Linked DNA regions of Homo sapiens: region 2 is linked to region 1. A link means that fine-mapping ties the variant in region 1 to the expression of a gene that starts in the linked region. Tissue or cell type: whole blood. Region 1 holds a variant in brackets; the other region holds the start of a gene. All regions are shown on one strand. Distances are from middle to middle.

Region 1 (8,110 bases):
CTAAAGGCCTGGGATGTGAAGGAAAACCAGCAAAGCAGACTGAGAAAGAATGGCTGGTGAAGGGAAATAAGAGTCAGGAGAATGTGGCGTCCTCAAAGTATGTGTGTGTTTGTGCGGGGGAAGTGTTTCAAGGAAGTGATAGGGACTCAAGTATGTTGAATGCTGTTGATGAGTCAATTACGATGAGGTCTGAGAATCAGACTAAAGGTCTAGCCACATGGAAGTTACTGGTGGCCTTGACAAGATCTGCTAGGTGAATGGACAAGGCGAAAGTAGGCTTGCAGTGGGTTTGGGAGAAAAGAAGAAGAGAGAAATCCAAGACAGTAGTCATGGGCAAGTCTTCCAGGGAATTTTTCTGTACAGGGGAGTAGAGTATGTGTGTGTGTGTGTGTGTGTGTGTGTGTGTGTGCATGCACGTGTGTTTCCTAGTAAGGTTCATCTTGATGAATGTCATTATTCAGTATAAAAATGTTGATCCAAAAAGGAAGATAGCTCTAGTGTTCTCTGGAGGACATGCAGAGTGTATTCCCACTGGAAAATTAAAGAAAAAGCTGACAGAGCTGAGTGAATAGTAAGTTATAACTCAGAAGCAACATTCAGAGAAGGCTACACCTTGTGAAGGATGTCTTCAGAGTTCACAAAAAGAACATTGTGGGGGTGAAAGTTTTAGCTTAGAAGGCAAAAGATTTCAAAAATATACAGAATCAAAATGATGTTAAAAATAAACATGGAGGCATTCCACTACTGTTTATGAAAGAATAGTTCATGAGCAAACTGACCTACTGAGAACAACTATAAAAGCTATAAATGGACAAGAAACAGCTCTTTGGAGGCACGCGTGGACACCCACATCCACACCCACCCAGCCCCCCAAGACAAAGCAGCACAACTTCAGGAAACAAATTGGGAGACAACAGGAATAATACATTGAGATGAACCCCATATTTGCTACTGTTTTCTTTCCCTGTATCAATATATTTTAGATTAGTAATGGGGCATAGAGGCCAAGAAAAAGGGATACCCTCAAAATTTGTGACAAGCTCACTAGGCTGCCAAAAGGAATGATGTTGGGAAATGTCTCAGACTTTGAATTGATAATCTTGAAGGACTACACTCTAGGAGTAAGGGCAAGCTTAATACAGACAAGTCCTCAAAACACTAGAAGCAGAACCTAGAATCAATGAAACCTCTGTTTAGATCCAGGTTATATGCCTGTACTTTATATGACCACCAGAAAAAGTATCCTCTTTAAAGAAATATAGCATCACCTAGAATTTCTATTATTTTTATATACAATGTACAGCATTCAATCTAAAATTAAGAGACAGCCCAGGATATAGGGCCAAGTGACTGAAAGCCAAGAGAGAAAACAAAATTATAATGGACCCACACGTGATTAAAATAGTAGCACTATCAGGTACAAGCTAAGAAACAATTTGATTTGCACATTCAAAAATATATTGAAAAACAATTTCAAGAGAGAACTGTAATCTGAAAAATAATCAAACTGATATCCTAGAAATGAATAATACAATGACTCAATAATTCACTAGCTGTGTTGAACTGCAGATTACACATAGCAGACAAGAGGCTTAGTAAACTGGAAGGCAGGTCAATACACAGTATTCACTTTGAACAAGCATAAAAAATAGATATTCCTTAAAAATTGTGAGGCCATGTGAAAAAATCTCATATCCGTGTAATGATAGTCATAGAGGAGAAAGAGAATAGAACAATGCAGTATTGAACAGATACCATGAAAGAATCTTCCAAAAATAGATAGAAGACATCGATGCAGTCATTTAAGAAGCTATAAGAAACACAAGATAGAAAGCAAAACATACTCAGGTCCATCACAAACTGCTAGAAACCCCAAATCAAAAAGAACCAAACAGCAGTCAGAGGGAGGGGGGAAAGACTCATTATCTTCAAAGAAGCAACAATAAGACTAATATTTGACTTTTCAACACAAGTGATGGAAGCTGAAAGACAATATAAAAAGCATCTTTAAAGTGCTGAAAAAAATAATTGCCAACCCAGAATTTTATACGTAGTAAACATATACCTCAAAAATGAGGGCAAAAGAGCAGTATTTTCAGATAAACCAAAATTGGGAATTTATCACCGGCAAATCTGTACTAAAGGAAATACAAACGAGAGCTCTTCACAGAGTAGGAAAATTATCCCAGAAGGAAGTACAATGATAAAAGAAGAAGTAATAAAGATCAGAATGTATACATACGTGGGAAAATAGAAAAGAATACTTACTGTATAAAATAATGAGTAATACAGAATTCAGTATATATTTGGGATTAAAATATTATAGAAATAGCTTAAAATTGGGAAGGGTTTATTTGCTGTTAAAGTGTTATAGATTCATCATTGTCCAGGATTACTGTTCTAAGGTAGAGTTTTATAAAGCAGTGCGTGTGATATAGCGAGATGAAGGCACAAAATACTATCAGGAATGAAAATAGGCATACCACTGCTGATTCTATAGATGTGAAAAAAGATAAGCATTATACTATGAATAACTTGATTTGGTAATTTAGATGAAAATTAAAACTTTGAAAAAATCACATCACTCAAGAAGAAATAGAAAATTTGAAAAGGGTTATGTCTATTATAAGACTTAAATGTATTATTAAAAGCCTTCTCACAAAGACAACTCCAAGTCCTGCTGACTTCATTGGTTAATCCTTCCAAATATTTAAGGAAAAACTAATACCACTAGTAGCAATATCAAAAAGCTCTTCAGGCCTGGGCATAGTGGCTCATGCCTATAATCCCAGCACTTTGGGAGGCTGAAGCAGGAGGATTGCTTGAGCCCAGAGGCTCGAGGTTACAGTGAGTTATGATCACGCCACTGCACTCCAGCCTGGGTAACAGAGTGAGACTTTGTCTCTCTAAAAAACTAACAAAAAAGTTATTCAAGATGATTGTCATTTTGTAAGGCTACCACAACCCTGATACAAAACCTAACAAGGACATTACAAAAAAAAAAAGTAAATTACAATAAAGTAACTGAGAATTATAAAAAAAAAAAAAAAAGCGAATTATAGGCCAATATCATCCCTGAACTCCCAAGCAAAATCAAATCAGTAATATATGAAATAGATAATACGTACCATCCAAATTAAATTTATTTCAGAAATGCAAGTTTGATGTACCATGTGAAAATCATTCAGTGCAACAAATGATGTAAGGAAACAAGCATGGGATCTTCTCGAAAGATGAAGAAAATGTCTTTATAAAAATTCTTAGTCAACCAGGAAGATAAGAATATCACTGTTATCTCTTCATGAGTATCTAGGGGAAAAAAACAACTGCAAACTGCATACTTAGTGGTAATTTTATTCTGATTTTACTTACT[G/A]AAGAAGCTATACTTCCTGAGATCAGATAATACGAAGTGTCAGCTACCGCCACTGTTATTCATGATACAGAATATATTTTCCACCCCAGCAGGGCAAGATTAAATTATTAAAGGGTCTTAAGATTTAGGAAGAAAGAAACAATTTGGTTTTTCACAGAAAACATGATTGTGTACATAGAAAATCCAAAATAATTACAAACACACTTAAAAATGTGATTTAACAACATCATTGAAAACAGTCAATATAAAAATTACGTGCATTTCTATATAACAACAGATAATACAATTTATAAAAATACAATATAATAGATTCAAAAATCAAATACCTAGGAATAAATTTAATAAAAATGAGTATATTAGAGTTCTTCAGAGCAACAAAATTATTAGGAGATATTAGATTATGTAATATAATGTATATCTGGAGGGAGAGAGTTTTTCTTTTTTTTGATTTGAGTGTATTTTATTTTATTTTATTTTTTATTATACTAAGTTCTAGGGTACATGTGCACAATGTGCAGGTTTGTTACATATGTATACATGTGCCATGTTGGTGTGCTGCACCCATTAATTCGTCATTTACATTAGGTATATCTCCTAATGCTATCCCTCCCCTCTCCCCACACCCTATGACAGGCCCTGGTGTGTGATGTTCCCCATCCTGTGTCCAAGTGTTCTTATTGTTCAATTCCCACCTATGAGTGAGAACATGTGGTGTTTGGGTTTCTGTCCTTGCGACAGTTTGCTCAGAATGATGGTTTCCAGCTTCATCCATGTCCCTACAAAGGACATGACCTCATCCTTTTTTATGGCTACATAGTATTCCATGGTGTATATGTGCCACATTGTCTTAATCCAGTCTATCATTGATGGACATTTGGGTTGGTTCCAAGTCTTTGCTATTGTGAATAGTGCCGCAGTAAACATACGTGTGCATGTGTCTTTATAGCAGCATGATTTATAATCCTTTGGGTATATACCCAGTAATGGGATGGCTGGGTCAAATGGTATTTCTAGTTCTAGATCCTTGAGGAATTGCCACACTGTCTTCCACAATGGTTGAACTAGTTTACAGTCCCACCAACAGTGTAAAAGTGTTCCTATTTCTCCACATCCTCTCCAGCACCTGTTGTTTCCTGACTTTTTAATGATCGCCATTCTAACTGCTGTGAGATGGTATCTCATTGTGGTTTTGATTTGCATTTCTCTGATGGCCAGTGATGATGAGCATTTTTTCATGTGTCTGTTGGCTGCATAAATGTCTTCTTTTGAGAAGTGTCTGTTCATATCCTTCGCCCACTTGTTGATGGGGTTGTTTGATTTTTTTCTTGTAAATTAGTTTAAGTTCTTTGTAGATTCTGGATATTAGCCCTTTGTCAGATGGGTAGATTGCAAAAATTTTCTCCCATTTTGTAGGTTGTCTGTTCACTCTGATGGTAGTTTCTTTTGCTGTGCAGAAGCTCTTTAGTTTAATTAGATCCCATTTGTCAATTTTGGCTTTTGTTGCCATTGCTTTTGGTGTTTTAGACATGAAGTCCTTGTCCATGCCTATGTCCTGAATGGTATTGCCAAGGTTTTCTTCTAGGGTTTTTATGGTTTTAGGTCTAACATTTAAGTCTTTAATCCATCTTGAATTAATTTTTTATAAGGTGTAAGGAAGGGATCCAGTTCCAGCCTTCTGCATATGGGCTAGCCAGTTTTCCCAGCACCATTTATTAAATAGGGAATCCTTTCCCCATTTCTTGTTTTTGTCAGGTTTGTCAAAGATCAGATGGTTGTAGATGTGTGGTATTATTTCTGAGGGCTCTGTTTTGTTCCATTGGTCTATATCTTTGTTTTGGTACCAGTACCATGCTGTTTTGGTTACTGTAGGCTTGTAGTATAGGTTGAAGTCAGGTAGCGTGATGCCTCCAGCTTTGTTCTTTTGGCTTAGGATTGACTTGGCAATGCGGGCTCTTTTTTGGTTCCATATGAACTTTAAAGTAGTTTTTTCCAATTCTGTAAAGAAAGTCATTGGTAGCTTGATGGGGATGGCATTGAATCTATAAATTACCTTGGGCAGTATGGCCATTTTCACAATATTGGTTCTTCCTATCCATGAGCATGGAATGCTCTTCCATTTGTTTGTGTCCTCTTTTATTTGGTTCAGCAGTGGTTTGTAATTCTCTTTGAAGAGGTTATTCACATCCCTTGTAAGTTGGATTCCTAGGTATTTTATTCTGTTTGTAGCAATTGTGAATGGGAGTTCACTAATGATTTGGCTCTCTGTTTGTCTGTTATTGGTGTATAGGAAAGCTTGTGATTTTTGCATATTGATTTTGTATCCTGAGACCTTGCTGAAGTTGCTTATCAGCTTAAGGAGATTTTGGGCTGAGATGATGGGTTTTCTAAATATACAGTCATGTCATCTGCAAACAGGGACAATTTGACTTCCTCTTTTCCTAATTGAATACCCTTTATTTCTTTCTCCTGCCTGATTGCCCTGGCCAGAACTTCCAACACTATGTTGAATAGGAGTGGTGAGAGAGGGCATCCCTGTCTTGTGCCAGTTTTCAAAGGGAATGCTTCCAGTTTTTGCCCATTCAGTATGATATTGGCTGTGGGCTTGTCATAAATAGTTCTTATTATTTTGAGATATGTCCCATCAATACCTAATTTATTGAGAGTTTTTAGCATGAAGGGTTGTTGAATTTTGTCAAAGGCCTTTTCTGCATCTATTGAGATAATCATGTGGTTTTTGTCTTTGGTTCTATTTATATGCTGGATTACATTTATTGATTTGCATATGTTGAACCATCCTTGCATCCCAGGGGTGAAGCCCACTTGATCATGGTGGATAAGCTTTTTGATGTGCTGCTGGATTTGGTTTGCCAGTATTTTATTGAGGATTTTTGCATCGATATTCATCAGGGATATTGGTCTAAAATTCTCTTTTTTGTATGTGTCTCTGCCAGGCTTCGGTATCAGGATGATGCTGGCCTCATAAAATGAGTTAGGGAGGATTCCCTCTTTTTCTATTGATTGGAATAGTTTCAGAAGGAACGGTACCAGCTCCTCTTTGTACCTCTGGTGGAATTCGGCTGTGAATCCATCTGGTCCTGGACTTTTTTTGGTTGGTAGGCTCTTAATTATTGCCTCGATTTCAGAGCCTGTTATTGGTCTATTCAGGGATTCAACTTCTTCCTAGCTTAGTCTTGGGAGGGTGTATGTGTCCAGGAATTTATCCATTTCTTCTAGATTTTCTAGTTTATTTGCATAGAAGTGTTTATAGTATTCTCTGAGGTAGTTTGTATTTCTGTGGGATCGGTGGTGATATCCCCTTTATCATTTTTTATTGCGTCTATTTGATTCTTCTCTGTTTTCTTCTTTATTAGTCTTGCTAGCGGTCTATCAATTTTGTTGATCTTTTCAAAAAACCACATCCTGGATTCATTGATTTTTTGAAGGGTTTTTTGTGTCTCTATCTCCTTCGGTTCTGCTCTGATCTTAGTTATTTCTTGCCTTCTGCTAGCTTTTGAATGTGTTTGCTCTTGCTTCTCTAGTTCTTTTAATTGTGATGTTAGGGTATCAATTTTAGATCTTTCCTGCTTTCTCTTGTGGGCATTTAGTGCTATAAATTTCCCTCTACACACTGCTTTAAATGTTTCCCAGAGATTCTGGTATGTTGTGTCTTTGTTCTCATCGGTTTCAGAGAACATCTTTATTTCTGCCTTCATTTCATTATGTACCCAGTAGTCATTCAAGAGCAGGCTGTTCAGTTTCCATGTAGTTGAGCGGTTTTGAGTGAGTTTCTTAATCCTGAGTTCTAGTTTGATTGCACTGTGGTCTGAGAGACAGTTCGTTATAATTTCTGTTCTTTTACATTTGCTGGGGAGTGCTTTACTTCCAACTATGTGGTCAATTTTGGAATAAGTGCGATGTGGTGCTGAGAAGGATGTATATTCTGTTGATTTATGGTGTAGAGTTCTGTAGATGTCTATTAGGTCTGTTTGGTGCAGAGCTGAGTTCAATTCCTGGATATCCTTCTTAACTTTCTGTCTCGTGGATCTGTCTAATGTTGACAGTGGGGTGTTAAAGTCTCCCATTATTATTGTGTGGGAGTCTAAGTCTCTTTATAAGTCTCTAAGGACTTGCTTTATGAATCTCAGTGCTCCTGTATTGAGTGCATATATATTTAGGATAGTTAGCTCTTCTTGTTGAATTGATCCCTTTACCATTATGTAATGGCCTTCTTTGTCTCTTCCGATCTTTGTTGGTTTAAAGTCTGTTTTATCAGAGACTAGGATTGCAACCCCTGCTTTTTTTTTTTGTTTTCCATTTGCTTGGTAGATCTTCCTCCATCCCTTTATTTTGAGCCTATATGTGTCTCTGCACGTGAGATGGGTCTCCTGAATACAGCACACTGATGGATCTTGACTCTTTATCCAGTTTGCCAGTCTGTGTCTTTTAATCGGCACATTTAGCCCATTTACATTTAAGGTTAATATTGTTATGTGTGAATTTGATCCTGTCATTATGATGTTAGCTGGTTATTTTGCTCGTTAGTTGATGCAGTTTCTTCCTAGCCTGATGGTCTTTACAATTTGGCATGTTTTTGCAGTGGCTGGTACCAGTTGTTCTTTTCCATGTTTGGTGCTTCCTTCAGGAGCTCTTGTAAGGCAGGCCTGGTGGTGACAAAATCTCTCAGCATTTGCTTGTCTGTAAAGGATTTTATTTCTCCTTCAATTATGAAGCTTAGTT
Region 2 (8,110 bases), 110 kb before region 1:
TGCCAACCCAGAGAACATTGGTTGGTCCAATCTCCTTGTTCCTATTCTTAAAAAGTAAACTGATACTAATGGCACAATATATGTTATTTGGGTGATGAATACCCTAAAGACCCTGACTCCATCACTATGCAATCTACGCATGGAACAAAATGGCACTAGTACTCCCATAAATCTATACAAATAAAAAAGTAAACTGAGGCACAATACAGTTTTACAGTGCTTCTGAACCAGCAATGATTCATGAACCAGAAGTGGTTGGGGAGCTCCACCAAGGGAACACAAGAGAAGGCTTTTTCAGGACAGAGACAGAAGTAGAGCAAAGACAGCGCTTGACTGTTTACAGTTATACAGCTACCTTATTTGGTCTATCTCATTGGAAAGTCCTTAGTTATATAAGTTTGTTGGCTGCTTCTGATTGGTTGTGTTTACGTTTTCTTTAATATAGGCATTTACAAGATATAGTGCTCAAGTTATTATGTTTGCGTATGTCACTTATGTTTGCAGATCAAGCAAGGTCGAGGTCGCTTATGAGCCCTTGCTGGTTTGGTATGTTCATGGATTCTTCTGGCCTGGTCTCCATTTTAATGTACTTTAACACCATGAATAAAGGTTTACTTCTGAGACTCTAAGAGCCCGTTTAAATTAAACCTATGCATGATATTGCCTCAAATACCCAACAGCTCACTCATAATTGGATATTCATTGCTGGCACAAATGTTAAGTATTACTGAGCAATTAGTTCTCTCTATATTTGGCCCTCACAGAGTGTAATTATTGTATTGTTCAGTACTAATCTGCCTTTTCACATACATGCATTGAGAGGAGAGTCTTCTGTTTGCCCCACAATTTCAATTCTCTATATTTGTGGTTAGAAACTGCGGTGACACAATCCTCATGTCTAAATTCATTCATTCGGGAGATTGTAAAGATGGTTCCGTAAAGCCTCAGTATTGTAGGTGCTGATAATGATGATAATGAAAATGATAAACTTTCCCTTATAAATCTTATAATGAATTGACTAGACTGCCTACAGACTATACACTATCTTTGTCTATAGGTAAAATGGTTGTAATTGGCCGGGCGCAGTGGCTCACGCCTGTAATCACAGCACTTTGGGAGGCCAAGGTGGGTGGATCACGAGGTAAGGAGATCGAGACCATCCTGGCTAACACGGTGAAACCTCGTCTCTACCAAAAATACAAAAAATTAGCCGGGCGTCGTGGCACGTGCCTGTAGTCCCAGCTAGCTACTCTGGAGGCTGAGGCAGGAGAATTACTTGAACCCGGTAGGCGGAGCTTGCAGTGAGCTGAGATCGCGCCACTGAATTACAGCCTGGGTGACAGAGCAAGACTCTGTCTCAGGAAAAAAAAGATTAAAAAAAATAAAAACGGCTGTTTTATTAAGAATTGTTATTAGGAACGGGCAGAGAAGAACAGTGTCTGTGTAGTTCAGCATGTGAGTGGTAATTTGCTAATTATATCTGGCTTGTCACTCCGGTCTCTGTAACTTGCTGTGTTTTGTCAAGTGATTCTTCCAGAAATTTTGTGTATATTATCTTACTAAACTCTCATTAAAGAGGCCCCTCAAATGGAAGAAGGGAACTTAGAGTTTTTAGAATGTGAATAAATTTAAGGGACTTTGGCTTCTAGAATTCTGTAGATCTCTGTTTTGCTGGGAATATACAGCTTCCCATTATTCTGAGATTGGCTGATCTGTAATGCTGTGAAATATCAGTGTTTACTAAATTTGTTATTTTACATTTATGGGCATACATTTTTTTTTAATTCTCTCTCTCTCTTTTTTTGAGACAGGGTCTCCCTCTGTTACCCAGGCTGGAGTGCAGTGGCGCACTCATGACTCAATGCAAACTTGAATTTGCCTGGACTCAAGTGATCCTCCCACCTCAGCCTCCCAAGTAGCTGAGACTATAGGCATGCACCAACATGCCCAGCTAATTTTTGTAATTTTTGTAGAGATGGAGTTTTACCACGTTGCCCAGGTTGGTCTTGAACTCCTAGGCTCAAGCAATCTCCTAAAGTGTTGGGATTACAGGCATGATCCACTGCTCCCAGCCTTAATTCTTTTAAAAAGGGGAAAAATGAGGTTTTTCACTATTGCTCCAATCACCATCATAGCTAAATAAGTTAATGCACATAGTTAAGAAATGTACAGTAGAGAGAAAACAATCTGTGTTGTATTTAGAAACTAGCAAGAATTAAGGACTAATAATATCTGAATATGAACTGGTATTAAGCCCAAACTACTGCATCAGGAGACCATCAATAAAATTTATTTATCGAGAGCCATTCATTAGTCAACCAAAGTCGTGGGAAATTTAATCTGTATAAGGAGTCATAAGGCATAAGGGATAGGTATGAAGGATTGTTGAGATGATGTGTTTTATTTCGCTAATAATGCATATGACACCATTCCAATTTTTTTAAATTTAAAACAACAATCATTTATTTGCTTGCTTCTCAAGCCTGGGTAATCGTGTTTGGCAATGAGACCTTGTTGCATGCTTGCTAATATCCCACTGGTCAAAGCTAGTCAAATGGCCAAGCCTAGAGTCAGCGTGGGAGAAGGCCACACAAGGGTTTGAATTCTGAGGACGAGTCTCTTTCATTGAAGGCCAAAGAAACAGTCTACCTCAGAGGGTTGCTGGGGAGCTATAATGCAAAGAATAAACCTCACCCTGCCTTCAAGGCGCTCACAGAGAAGAAATCTTTTGAATATTAGTGAAGTTTTCCTGGACATCCCAATGGATAGATGTGAGGGACAGTCACGTACTCAGGACATCTGTTTGCTTATGGTGTTATGTTACAGATGTCACAAATGAAAATCAGAGACATGTAGCCCTGAGCCCAGTAACTATAAAGCGGTCTAGCTGAAGCTGGAGCCCACAAGAGGGCACTTTGCACCATGATGCACGCTTGTTTCTTGCCATCAGCTCTGCAATGAGTTCAAGCTAATGCCATGTCCCAGCCGTCCAGTTGTTTTATGACTTGTGTGATTGAAGCATATGGTGGCTTGTGGCATGTTCTTAGGCAAACCACTCACCTCCCTAGGTTTCGTTTTCCTAATTTCTCAAACAAGGGAGTTAGATTAGGTGGTCTATAGTTCCTTCCAATTGTGATATTTCACTATATAACAATATAGTTATAATAGATCATAGCACATCTGTAATGAAAAAAAGTGAGTTCATTTCTTAACAAGTACATTTACTTAACTAGTTGGAGTCATTAAAGCAAATTAAGAACGAAATTCTTAGTTAATCTGAACTTTTCTGGGCATACTGATCTGTTCCCTAACGCGTCTGACCGTGGAAAAGTGGATCAGCAGGAGTGGGACTGGCTCTCAGCTTTGCCATGTTTGGCTCTTTCTCTGCTGTGAAACTCAGTTTCTTCCTGGATCAAGAGGTTAATTTCTGCCGGTGTTATTTTACAGTGTTGCAAAGAGATAAAAGCCAGACGAAAGAAGGGAAAGTACTTCAGCTTTGATTAGGGATTTTTTTTTCTGTCCCTGTGACCATACACTACTCAATTCTGACAGCTTCGCATGAGTCTAGCAGAAAATTGAGGGATTCACTGTTATTCCTTAACTTGCAGAGGTCCAGACCCGCCCACATCAAATGGTGAGGTCCCCACTTTCAACTTTAGCTGTTGCTAAATCTGTGACCCTTTCAATGAAATCCAAGGATCTCAGCTTAAAAAAAGTTAAAATAAAATAAAAACTAGGTGTTTTTCAGAGGCGGTTTGAAACGCCTCTCTGAGGTTGTCAGAGATTGTTTTTGTTTTCTCCCTTTGCCCTTCTTGGAATGCACCAAACATAAAAGCATTTTTTTTCAAGCTTTACTTTCACTTTCGAGAGTGCCGTCTATTTGCCACACACTTCCCTGATGAAATGTCTGGATTTGGACTAAAGAAAAAAGGAAAGGCTAGCAGTCATCCAAGTAAGTGAAGGTGTTCATTTCACGTTCTTACTGGGCAGGGTCTCTCTTGCTGAGTAGAGTTTGCTAGCAGAATGCATGTGGTTTTAGCCTTCTTTGGTCTTTCTTTGATCTGGTGCTTGAAATCTAGTCAGAATTATTCAGGAAGGAAAGTGGAAGAAAAGGGATATGATATGGGCATGGGAGAAGGGTATAACTCAGAACACAAGTAATAGCACCAATATCTAGTTAATGTGATAATGTATTTATGCAGTATTTAATTTTTTTCTCTGTAGCATTCTGTACCTGGAAAAAACACATTAGGGAAGCTATGGAAATCATTTTGCAACAGTCTTTTTAGCAAATCACATCTTTGCCTTAAAGAAACAAAACTCCAAGAGGTTAAAAGAGCGTATCCCCTTTTGTTAGTTTTATTGGCTGGAGGGGAGACAGGAGCTGGCATTGTATGACAATGTCTTAGATAGGAGAGAACATTCAGGTATGCCTAGGAGTAAGTAAATGGCTTTCTTTCACCTAATGAAGGATAATGGAAGAAGTGGAGAAGTGGAAAGTTGTTAAGGTGTATGGGAAGATCAGAAACTGGTATCGGCAATTGTGGGGTACTCGGGTAAAAATGGAGTTGGCTTCAGCAAGTTGATTCCCAGGTTTACAGATGATTACGTGCTGGTATGTGTCTTCATATGGGCGTGCCTGTGTATGAACCTACTACAAAGGTTGCAAAGTTTACAAATCAAACTATGGATAGTGGTTAACTCCAGGTAGTCTGCCTCCAGACCCCATGTCCTAACCATCAGGCAATATTGTCTCTCACTTGGACAAAGAATGTGAATTCCATGTGCCCTCACAAAATATTTCCAAAATTCTAAGGCTGAGTGAGTCTCTTTTTAATTTTTTTTCATTTTCTTTATTTCTGCTAGATCTCATTCAACAGCAACGTTTTCTTCACTCTCATTTCATCCTTTAACTGCATTTTTGCTTGTTTTACTGAAGCATGTCCTAGAATAACCTTTTCATACAGATCGTATGGCTATAAACTTACTGAATTTTTGCATATCTCAAAATACTTATACCTTTTTATTTAGTTATTCAGATGGATGTGAAATTTCCCTATCTTATTTTATTTTATTTTATTTCATTTTATTTCATTTATCGATTTAGAGACAAGGTCTCGCTGTGTTGCCCAGGCTGAAGTACAGTGGCATGATCGTGGCTCACTGCAGCCTTGACCTCCCTGGCTCAAGCAATTCTCACACCTCAGTGTCACGAGTAGCTGGGACCACAGGTGTGAACCACTATGGCCAGCTAATTTAAAAAAAAATTTTGGTGGAGATGAGGTTTCCCTGTGTTGCCCAGGCTGGTCCCAAACTCCTAGGCTCAAGGGATCCTCCAGCCTCAGCTTCCTAAAGTGATGGGATTACAGGCATGAGCCACAGGTAATTTTCTTGGCCTGGTCAAAGGTAATTTTCTTGTTTTTTAGAGGTAAGGTCTTGCTCTGTTGCCCAGGCTGGAGTGCAGTGGTGTGATCATGATTCATTGCAGCCTTAACCTCCTGGGCTCAAGCGATCCTCCTGCCTCAGCCTCCCAAGTAGCTGGAACTACAGGCTTGTGCCACCACACTTGGCTACTTTCTAAAATATTTTTGTAGATACGGGGTCTCACTATGTTGCCCAGGCTGGTGTTGAGCTCCTGATCTCCTTCTGCCTACACCTTCTAAAGTGCCGGGATTGTGGGGATGAGCCACTATGCTTTGCCTGGATATGAAATTTTAAATTCAAAATAATTTTCTCTAAATGTTTGGAAAGCTTATCTCTATTGTTTTCCAGTGGTTCATGTTACTGATGAAAAGTTTTTTATTAATCAAGATCTCTTTTCTTTGGAAATGAAGGTTTTAGGATTTTTGTGTGCATGGTTGCAATTCTGAAATTTCATAGGAGTCTCTCCAAGTTTGTTCCTCTTTCACTCCTCCTGCCTAGCATTTGGTGAGTTTTGCCCACTGATGAAATGTCTTCAGATGGGGCAAGTCCTTAAGTCATTCAGGGATATGCTTTGTAATGGATTAGTCCTTCTCAGCAATTCTGACCTATAGCAGGAGCCCTACCAGAGGGGTACATCTCACCTAAGCAAGGAGAATGTATTGTAGGGACCTTACCTATGAGTTGGTAAATAGAGATAGGAAGTTCTGAAGGAACTGGAAGAGAGGTTTGGGACACTCTCAGAGAGGGGGCAGGTGGGGAGCTGGTCCCCAGCATTTGAGAGGTATCATTGCCAGCCCTGCATCCTTCACGTGCCTGGGCAAGTCAGCAAATGCATCCTTGCTGGCCTAGCTGTGGCATTCCTCATGGCCTGTGGATATAAAGAATGTGCACAGCTTTACAATGATTAGTGCCAGAGTTGTAAAGGCCATGAGATGGGAATATTAGTTTATGGAAGCCAGTTTTTTTTGTTGTTTTTTCTGTTTCTGAGAACTAAATTAGAATATTAGTAAAATCGCTATTTTTAAGTATATTAGAACAATTCTATATACTCACATTAGTTCTGTTTTCCTAGGATTAGTCACCTAAGGTGATTTTATTACCTGACACTTACCTGGAATAATTTTCATGTCATGACTTTTAGATCTTGTGGAATATCTATTTAGATATCATTACCACTGCTTCATCTCCATACCTTGTGGGTGTATTTGATTTTTTAAAATATCTGAAATTTGGTTGTTGATCACACCACAGAGTATCACACTGGGTACACATCCCACCAAAATAAAGTGTGACAATGTATGGAGTTGAGTGGCTTTCCTGAGCTGACTAAATGCCCATGGAAAGCTATTGTATGAGTGCATTCTCACATTGCTCTACAGAAATACCTGAGACTGGTCATTTATAAAGAAAGAGGTTCAATTGGCTGATGGTTCTGCAAGTGGTGCAGGCAGCATAGCAGCCTCTGCTTCTGGAGGAGCCTCAAGGAGCTTTCACCCACCACAGAAGGCAAAGCCAGAGCTGGCACCTTCACATAGCCGGAGCAGGAAGAAGAGAGAAGGGGAAGGTGCCACACACTTTTATTTTTTTATTATTTATTTTGGGGGGAGTGGGGGCGAAGTCTCACTTTGTCACCCAGGCTGGAGTGCATGTGGTGGGATCTCGGCTCACTGCAGCCTCCGCTTCCCTAGTTCAAGCGATTCTCCTGCCTCGGCCTTCCCAGTAGCTGGGATTACAGGCACCCACCACCACACCCAGCTAATTTTTGTATTTAGTAGAGACACGGTTACACCATGTTGGCCAGGCTGGTCTCAAACTCCTGACCTCAGGTGATCTGCCCACCTTGGCCTCCCAAGTGCTGGGGTTACAGGCGTGAGCCACTGCGCCCAACCACCACACACTTTTAAACGACCGAATCTCATAAGAATTCACTCACTCACTATCGGGAGAACAGCACCGAGGGGGTGGTGCTGAACCATCTGTGAGAACTCTGCCCCATGAGCCAGTCACCTCCCACCAGCCCCCACCTCCAACACTGGGAATTACAATTCAACGTGTGGTGTGGGTGGAGACGCAGAGGCAAACCATATCGGCTATGTATTCAACATATATTTATTTCTTCAGAGCCAACAAAGTGCCAGGTCTTGTTCTAGGCACAGACAACACCGTATGGAATAAGAACTATGTCCTCTACTATTATAGCTTCACATTCTAGTGAGAAGCAATAATTAATAATAAATAATACACAATATTGGATAATTTCCATCAACCATAGCAACGGAAAAGGCAATCTAGAAGAAGAGCAAGATGGGAGGTTTCGCTCACTGAACTTCAAGACTTGTTGTAAAGCTAAAGTAATCCGAACAATGTGGTATTGGCCTAAGAACTAACAAATATTTCAGTGGAAGAGAGTAGACAGCCCAGAAATAGACCCTCGCTTAAAACATTTACTCGGTTTCTAAGGAAAGCACAGAACAATCCGGTGGGGGAAAGAAGTCTCTTTAAAAAATGGTCTGACTGGACCAGGCGTGGTGGCTCACCCCTATAATCCCAGCACTTTGGGAGGCCGAGGTGGATGGATTACCTGAGGTCAGGAGTTCAAGACCAGCCTGGCCAACATGGTGAAACCCTGTCTCTACTACAAATATAAAAATTAGCCAGGCATGGTGGCGCGTGCCTGTAGTCCCAG

Evidence for each region. PIP is the estimated chance that this variant, and not a neighbour inherited with it, causes the effect.
Region 2: TLR3 starts here. The variant in region 1 is fine-mapped to the expression of TLR3 in whole blood (TOPMed, PIP 0.97).

The regions. Positions count from the first base shown.
Region 1 is chr4:186,176,543-186,184,652 of GRCh38, forward strand. No RefSeq gene overlaps it. Among named protein-coding and RNA genes, the nearest start is that of FLJ38576, 11 kb to the right of the region's middle. The variant G/A (reference allele first, on the strand shown) is at 3,374.
Region 2 is chr4:186,065,297-186,073,406 of GRCh38, forward strand. TLR3 (toll like receptor 3) reads left to right here and starts at 3,860. Exons shown (of 5, transcript NM_003265.3): 1 at 3,860-3,952.